2 separate regions of the Homo sapiens genome follow, and region 1 is linked to region 2. The links come from fine-mapping of genetic effects on gene expression. A gene starts in region 2. The other region holds a variant in brackets. All regions are shown on one strand. Distances are from middle to middle.

What was found. PIP is the estimated chance that this variant, and not a neighbour inherited with it, causes the effect. A credible set is the group of variants that fine-mapping cannot tell apart.
Region 1: its variant is the best candidate, but not a certain one, in a credible set for the expression of PFKFB1 in cerebral cortex (GTEx, PIP 0.62).

Annotation. Positions count from the first base shown.
Region 1 is chrX:54,426,996-54,431,388 of GRCh38, reverse strand. No RefSeq gene overlaps it. Among named protein-coding and RNA genes, the nearest start is that of TSR2, 11 kb to the left of the region's middle. The variant G/C (reference allele first, on the strand shown) is at 2,460.
Region 2 is chrX:54,991,859-54,996,251 of GRCh38, reverse strand. It overlaps PFKFB1 (6-phosphofructo-2-kinase/fructose-2,6-biphosphatase 1), which reads left to right and starts at 2,064. Exons shown (of 14, transcript NM_002625.4): 1 at 2,064-2,341. The coding sequence starts at 2,245.

The DNA of each region.
Region 1 (4,393 bases), 560 kb after region 2:
CATTATTTGGTGTCTCTTTGTTACATGCAATCACATCTGATGCCAGCTGAGCCCTCTTGAGTGAGCCAATGCCTGAGCTCACTCAGAACTCACTCGGAACTCCCGGACTTCTCTCAGGAGAGTGAATGCCACTGGGTGCGGTGGCTCACGCCTGTAATCCCAGCACCTTGGGAGGCCGAGGCGTGTGGATCATTTGAGGTCAGAAGTTCAAGACCAGCCTGGCCAGCATGGTGAAACCCCGTCTCTACTAAAAATACAAAAAATTAGCCAGGCGTGGTAGTGTGCGCCTATAATCCCAGCTACTTGAGAGGCTGAGGCAGGAGAATCACTTGAACCTGGGAGGCGGGGGTTGCAGTGAGCCAAGATCATTCCACTGCACTCCAGCCTGGGCGACAGAGCAAGACTCCATCTCAAAACAAAACAAACCAAAACAAACAAAAAGTCTGAATGCCCATGCTGAGCACCCAACAGTGAGTGATCCAGACAGAGCTCCTGACTGACTAATACAATGAGATTGATCTCAGGTATACCAGTGCCTGAACCTCTGGACAGACTACCATAAAGCAGGTGGCCCAAACAGTTTCTAGACCAAACCCCTAAAATGATTTCCCCAGAGGCCCCTGAAGAAGCTCCCCAAGCTGAGTACAAGAGACTCAGTTTGCAGAATTAAGTTTCAGATCCCCATACTAAAGCAATACTCTGAGCTCTGCAGAAGAAAGTCATACTACCAACCTTAGAATGAACCTTGGATGGAGCATCAACCTGTCATATCCAGAATGAGCCCCTTGACTGTGCCTAGCAGATAGAGTACCCCTCACAGTCAGAGCCTCCAAACTGAGTTCTACAGACTAAAATTCCCAGGTAGAGTTCTCTGAAACTGATCTGCCAAACTAAAGTCACAAATTGAGTCCTTCAGGCTAGGACCTCAGACTGACTGACCTGCAATAACAGCCCTAAGTGGTCCACTCAGGTTGCTCAGATTGAACCCAAGAATAGGCCTCTAGAGTGCCTAGATAAGCCCCCAAACTGATATCCCAGATTGAAATCTCTAGAAGAAGCCCCTCGGGAAACTGAAATAACCACTGACAATGTTGAAACTTATCTGAACCCTGTATTCCTGGAAATCAGCCATGGTCAAAAAATTCCCCAACCTGGCCAGGTGCGGTGGCTCACGCCTGTAATCCCAGCACTTTGGGAGGCCGAGGTGGGCGGATCACCTGAGGTCAGGAGTTTGAGACCATCCTGGCCAAAATGGTGAAACCCCATCTCTACTAAAAATACAAAAAAATTAGCCAGGAGTAGTGGTGCGCACCTGTAGTCCCAGCTACTCAGGAGCCTGAGGCAGGAGAATCGCTTGAACCTGGGAGGCAGAGGTTGCACTGAGCCGAGATTGCACCACTGCACTCCAGCCTGGGTGACAGAGTGAGACTCCATCTGAAAAAAAAAAAAAAAGTTCAAACAAGAGACAATGGTGGTTTGGTGTAGATTAGAGATAGTGGAGACGGAGAGATGTGGACAAATTCAGGATAAATTTTAGAGGTAGAACCAATAGCACTCCATAATAAATTGAGTGTAAAGGAGGTGAGAGAAGGGATGATTCTCAGCTTTCTAGTTCAATAACTACTGGTTATACAGATGGGAGAAGGTGAGAGGAGGGAAAGACTTGGGGAAGAATATCAAGATTTCTGTTTTAGACATGTTCAATTTGAGGTGCTTGTGAGATAATCCAGTGGCGATGACAAGGAGGCAGTTGGTTCTACAAGCTCAGAGAACTTCAATATTTAGAGGTCAGCAAAAGAGACTGAGAAGAAACACACGTGTTTCTAGGAGGGATTGTTGATTGCCAGATGCTACTGAAAAGACAAGTAGGATGAGAAAAAAAAAACAAACCTGTCTGTTGGATTTGACATGAAGTCTTTGGTGACTTTGACAAGAGTGGGTTCTATGGAGTGGTATGAAGCTAGACTGCAGTTGGTTGAAGAGTGGGAGATGAAGTGGAGAGAGTAATATGTAACTTACATCTGGAGAAGGTTTGCATGAGAGGAACAGAGAAATAGGCAGTAGTAGGAAGAGCTCATGGTATTCAAGGGGGCTCTTAAAGATGGTATATCAGCCAGGTGCGGTGGGTCACGCCTGTAATCCCAGCACTTTGGGAGGCCAAGGCAGGTGGATCACCTGAGGTCAGAAGTTCGAGACAAGCCTGGCCAACATGGTGAAACCCCATCTCTACTAAAAATACAAAAATTAGCCGGGCGTGGTGGTGCACACTGGTAGTCCCAGCTACTCAGGTGGCTGAAGCAGGAGAATCACTTCAACCCAGGAGGCAGAGGTTGCAGTGAGCCGAGATTGCACCACTGCACTCCAGCCTGGGCAAGAGAGCAAGACCCTGCCTCAAAAAAAAATGATAATTATCTCTGAGAGTGGAGAGGTGATCACAGCAGGATTGCTATAAGTCCCAG[G/C]TACTAATGCCTATTTGAGGTCTGCAATCAATACTTTAGAGTGAAATCATTGGCTTCTGTGGGGTTTTTTTGTTTTGTTTTCTCTAACAGCATTCAGCTGCTCTCTTACAGAGGCAGAGAGTAACCTGGGTTGTGTTTGGCCAGATGAGTATAAAGATGAGAGAGACGGGCTGTTTGTTTTCTATGCTGTGTAACAAGTTACCACAAAGTTAGAGACATAAAACAACACACATGTATTATCTCACAGTTTCTGTGTGTCAAGAGTCTGGGAACAAATTATCTGGGTCCTCTTTTTCAGGGTCTAACTAGGCTGCATCGTGGGTGTCAACTGGGGCTGCAGTCTCATCAGAGGCTTAACTAGGGAAAATATCTGCTTCCAAGCTCCCTCAGGCTGTTGGAAGAATTCATCTTTTGTTTCTTTAATATCTCCTATATCATATCAAGGAAGAATTAATCTTGAAGCTATAGGACCGAGGTCCTCATTTTCTTGCTAGCTTTCATCCAGAGTTGGCTCTCAACTGCAAGTAATGAGTTCCTTGCCACGTGGCCCTGTGATAACTTGGCAGCTTATTTTTTCAAAGCTGACAGAAAAGAGTCTCTGTAACTCCAGTATACCAAGATGGAGTCTCAGCAAAGTGACATCCCATCACCTTTGCCATATTCTATCGTTATTTATTTATTTATTTATTTATTTATTTATTTATTTATTTATTTTGTAGAAACAGAGTCTTGCTATGTTTCCAGGCTGGTGTTAAACTCCTGGGCTCAAAAGATCCTCCCACCTCAGCCTCCCAAAGTGCTGGGATTACAGGTATGAGCCACTGCACCTGGCCTGCCATAGTCTAGAAGGCTAGAAACAAGTCACAGGTTCTGCTGACACTCCAGAAGATAAGATTACATAGGGCATAAACACCAGGTGGTGGGGATTACTGGAGGTCACTTTAGCATCTGTTGGCCACAAGGGCTAGAATAGTAAGGATGTTTGCAAGGGAGTGATTACAATGATGAATAATGAAATCTAAGCTGAGTGTATTAGTTTTGTATTGCCACATAACCAATTACTACAAATTTAACAGCTGTAAAAAAACACATATTGTCTCCCAGTTTCCATGGGTTAGAAATCCAGGCACAGCTTAACTAGATTCTCTGCTCAGGGTCACACAGGCTGCAATCAGGATGTTGTCCAGGACCACAGCGTCATATGAGGTTTAGGTCCTCTTTCAAACTTACATGGTTGTTGGCAGAATTTAATTCTTTGTGGTTGTAGAACTAAGGCCCTCAGACCCTAGGGGCTGCCTACCATGTGGCCATCTCCATAGGTAGTACACAATAGCATAGCAGCTTCTTGCTTCTTCAAGGCCATCAGTTTGAGTTCTTTGCATGCTAGCAAGATGGAGCCATAGCTATATCTAGAGAGAGACAGAGAGAGAGGTAGGGGCAGGGCAAATCAGAGGAGTGAAATCCTATCATCCTGGCCATATTCTATCGGTTAGAAGCAAGTCACAATGACCACCCCCTTCAAGGGAAGGGGGATTATACAGGGCATAATAATGGGGTAGAGATACTATGGGGGTCATCAGATAATTCTGCCTACCATGCTGGGTAAGGAGAGAAGTGAGGACATGAGGGGACTGAGGGGCAGTTAGTTAAAAGGTGGTGGGACCTGCCGGGTGCGGTGGCTCACGCCTGTAATCACAGCACTTTGGGAGGCTGAGGCAGGCAGATCACGAGGTCAAGAGATCGAGACCATCCTGGCCAACATGGCAAAACCCCATCTCTACTAAAAATACAAAAATAAAAAATAGCCAGGTGTGGTGTTGCATGCCTGTAGTCCCAGCTACTCTGGAGGCTGAGGCAAGAGAATCGCTTGAACCCGGGAGGCAGAGGTTGCAGTGAGCTGAGATGGCGCCATTGCACTCCAGCCTGGGAGACAG
Region 2 (4,393 bases):
TTAAGATTATTAATATTAACAGATTTATACCAGTTAGGAAATTTATTAGAATTAAAAGAGTTGTATCTCTTACAAAGTCTAGTTCTGAGACTCTAGAGGTTCTGAGCTAACCTGTAAGACCACATTCTTAGATCAGGCTTGTTTGATTAATTAAAGAAAAGCCCTGGCCTGGGAGAAATTAGGTCCCTAGTGTTCTATTCCTGACTTGGCCACTGATTTACTACATGACCTTAGGAAAATATTTCTAGACCTCAGTTTTCTTACCTGAGAGGGTGAGATGAAATGATCTTGCAAGTCTTTACACAAAATCAAAAGAGTAAAACCAAATTCATCCTTCTAATTGATTTGCAGGAGCTCTTTGTGTATTATAAATGTTAACCCTTTCCCATAATATTGTAAGTTTCCTTAACTGAGAGTTTTCTGTATGGTCAGCATTATATTAGAAGTTTCAGATTAGTCAAGGAGGTGTCTGATCATTTACCTCCCAAAGGGAGTAACAGTGTTAGATAATATATTTTTAACATTTCACAGATTGCTTTACATTTTTTAACACATTGAATCTTCAACAGTCCTAAGGAGGGTAGGTACTCCTATCATTCCCATGTTCCAGATAAGAAAACTGAAGCACTGAAAAGTTTAGTCTTCTGCTCATTGCCTCATAGCCAACAAGGGGCAGAGGTAGGATTCCACTCAAGAAATATTGCTCCAGAGCCTATTGCTCTTAACCATCATGATCTGCTATCTCAGTTGATTCATTTAGATAGGTGGGCTCTGGAATGTATTAAAAATTTGGTATGATTTATACACAACAACTGGAGGGAATCTGACCCTTGTGTAGACTACGGCTTGCAAATGTATTTTAGGGAACTTCTTAAAAGGCAAAGTGGAACTGAGAGCATTTGAGGGCAGGGATTGGAAATTTCTGTCCCCAAGAGATTGCCCTTGTGTAGCCCAGCTCAGTGGAAGAAAGTTGAGCTTCTTCATAGCCAATCGTTGGAGGTTCATTGGGGGTGGGAAGGTTGCAAAAGAGTGAAGTAAGAGGACACTTGTGCATCTTCGAGGCAAGCTGTGCAGTTCTATGAGTTATACACATAAAAGCCTCAAAACAACGGGTCAGGGGAGCGGGAGAGGGCAGGTGAGAGTGAGTCATCTGGGCTGGATGACTCTGGCCTATGGACTTGTCCTACTTTGAGGCCATTGCTCTCTGTTCCCTGCTGCAGCCTCCACCCTCCTAAATCTCCATCCTAATAGCTTGGCATGAGGAACTTTAGTGAAATTTTCTATCAGTTCATGATGCCAGTGTCATTCTCCTTAGGGCATCTGATGGTGGCTAACAGCCATGTGGGCAGAGCTTACCATTCCCCCACCTCCAGCCCCAGGCAATGGCTGCACTCTTCCAAAGGTGTCAGTTTACTCCTATTTATTTAGCCCTTGGCTGGAGAGAGTAGAAAGATGATCGGATAGTGCCCATCTCTTCAAGAGTGCTCCAGGCAGCACATTTCAGGTGGGAGAGGCCCTGTGGCAAGGAAGGCAGCAGAATCCAGAGAAGACAAGGGATGCAATGCCATTTTGGGTCGGGGAAGCAGAGAAGTAGTGGACCTTCCATGTCCAGTTTGGGCCTCTAATTGCCAGCTCAAAACACTGCATTCCCCAGTAGGGACTTTGTGTTTGTGTTTTTGTCCTTGGGAACCTTGCATTTCTGATGTGAATCTTGGTTTCTGGGTTGGAGCTTGACATTCTACTTGGGCCCATTTTTTTATTTCAAAGCTGGGAAAGCCGCTGAGACCTACCTCCATCACCTTTGCCTCTATACCCCACACAGGCTGTAAGCACATGATCTTTGGTCTTTTATTTGCATACTCTATTAGTCTTGTCTTCATTGGAGGGAAGTGACTGGTCAGACCTGGGCTGTGTTGCTGGCTGCCTTCCTTGTTGGGCTCCAACTTACCTCCTATGTACACAGCCCTTGGAGTTCAGAGGCCTCTCCTGACCTCTGCCCAACCTCTCGCCCTCTGCACCCAATACCCCACTAGTACATACAGGAGCAGAGGCAGGCTAGGACCAGAGGAAAGAAGAGAGGGGACTGAAGACAGACTTTGAGAGGGCTCAGAAACCCAGTACACCCCCTGTCCCAGCCCTGTCCACCTGCTGCTGTGGCCACAGCGAGAGAAAAGACAGCTAGTAAGATAGGAAGTGAGGCCAGGTACCTTGTGGGCAGTGATGTCATTCGGTGCGACTCCTAAGATGTCTCCAGAGATGGGAGAGCTCACCCAAACCAGGTTGCAGAAGATCTGGATTCCACACAGCAGCGGCAGCAGCAGGCTGCAACGGAGAAGGGGCTGTAAGTGGGGTTTGCTTCCGTGGGTTTAAAGGTGGTGGTGGTAGAGTGGGTGTAGAAGAGCAAAGGATGCACCTCCCCTTGCCATCCACTCCTACCTCAACCTAAAAGTTGGAATAGATGAACAACTGGATGAAATAGAGGCTAGTGTCAAAAACGTGAGGAAAAGAATGAGAGAGAAGACAGGCGGAAAGAGAGATGAAGACAAAGGAGGATTAGGTTAAGACCATCTTAATCAGAGGGATCTTTAGGAACTTTTCCTTTCTTATGCAGAGCTTGTTTGGAATGCTTCTTGTTTGGAATTTAAGATTTCTAGTTTAGGACTGTTCAGTGATAGCCTAGTATGTTTCATTTTGGTGACTTCTGTGAAGTGTCTGGGAGTTGGTCTTGCCTGACTGATAGTGCCTGGGTGAAATAAGGTGATGGCTCCTGGCATCATCTTTCAGGGGACAGGTGCTGGGTACACAACAGTGCCATGTCACTGGTCAGTATTGCTCCTCTCCTTTCTCAGGCCTTTTCTGAGTCTATACCTGCCTAGGTTGGGAAACACTTAATGTCCTGTCTCCAGTGTTGCCTTCCTGGCACATATGGACTTCCTTGCTGCTCTGGAAATTTGAGAGAGGCAGTCTCTCAGGGCCAGCCCACTGGTGTGGTGCTCACTTTGGAAATTTAAGAAAGATCAAGGGCAAAACAAAACCTGTACATATTTAAAACAAAATCTGGAGTGTACCATTTCCCATAGATAACAGGCGACAGTGGTGGACCAAGGTGCATCCAGCCCAGGGATTGTGGCCTGAGTGGCCATAAGGTGGGTTAAGATAAGGCAGCTGTGGACTGTGGGACTCAGACACCCCAAAGGCCAGCTAACCAAGTTTCCAGTCTGCTAATGCTAGAGGAGGCCCAGGCTTAGGGATATTGGGGGTAGCAGTAGTTGCTTAGAGGATCTAGGAGCATATAGGATGTTAAATATAGTTATAATATACAGGAGGTAGGGTGTGGGTGGAGGAAGAGAGAGAAAAAAGACTAGGCTCCTATTCTCTCTCTTTCTTATCTCCACCAGCTCTCTCACTCACTCATCTGGAGATCTAGGAGCCTGGAGACTGAGAGGTACCCTCGCCCAGCCAGCCACTCTTGGCCTTTTCCAAGGGGCTGTTTAGTTGACAAACAAGCAAGCCATTCTCTGCATACACGGGTCCTCCAGAGCTAGAATGCTTATAGTCCTGGGAACTGTGTCTTTCAAGTTGGAGAGATAATATACATAAATCACCTAATATAGTCTCTATCAAATAGAAGGTGAAAAATAAATATGTGCTTACTTTTGTTTGGAGTGTCACTTTCCTCAGCTATAAAACAGGATTAATGCCTGCAACCCAGTGTTATTGGGAGTAATTCACTGATTCAGAGGTTCTGGATCCAGACTGCCTAGGTTTGAGTTCCAGCTCTATCTCCCCCTGTGTCTGTGACCTTGGACAACTCTCTTAACCTCTCTTGGCTTCTGTTTCCTCACTTGTAAAAGGAAGTTAATAACAGTGTAGTTGTGAAGATTAAATGAACTGGAGCATGGGATGTGCTTAGAAGAGTGTCCAGCACATAGTACATACGCAGTAATTGTTAATTATCCTAATTATTATTGTTCTTGTTATATAAACAAGAAAGCGGGTGTGTGGTCTTATTTACCATCATATCCTCAACATCAGGCCCTGATCCTGGCTCATAGTAGATGCTCAGTAAATGGTCACTCTGTGCTACTTCCACTCTACCACTCACCATAGCCAAGAATGGGGCTCTGTGTGTACAAGACAGTCACTCATTAATATTTGACTAAATTTTATCAGACCATAGATGCAAAAAACTTAGATAGTGGTTGCCAAGTCTGGACAATGTCTGGTTCACTTCTTGCTAGGGAGGCCAGTCTATTGGTCCCTGTAAGGTCTGAATCACCTTTTTCTTGGAGCATCCTCTCTAGCAGACACACAGTTACTTAATGTTATTTTGAAGATTAAATACATTAACATGTAAAGTACTTGAACAGCTGTGCATATTCTTTTCTCATCC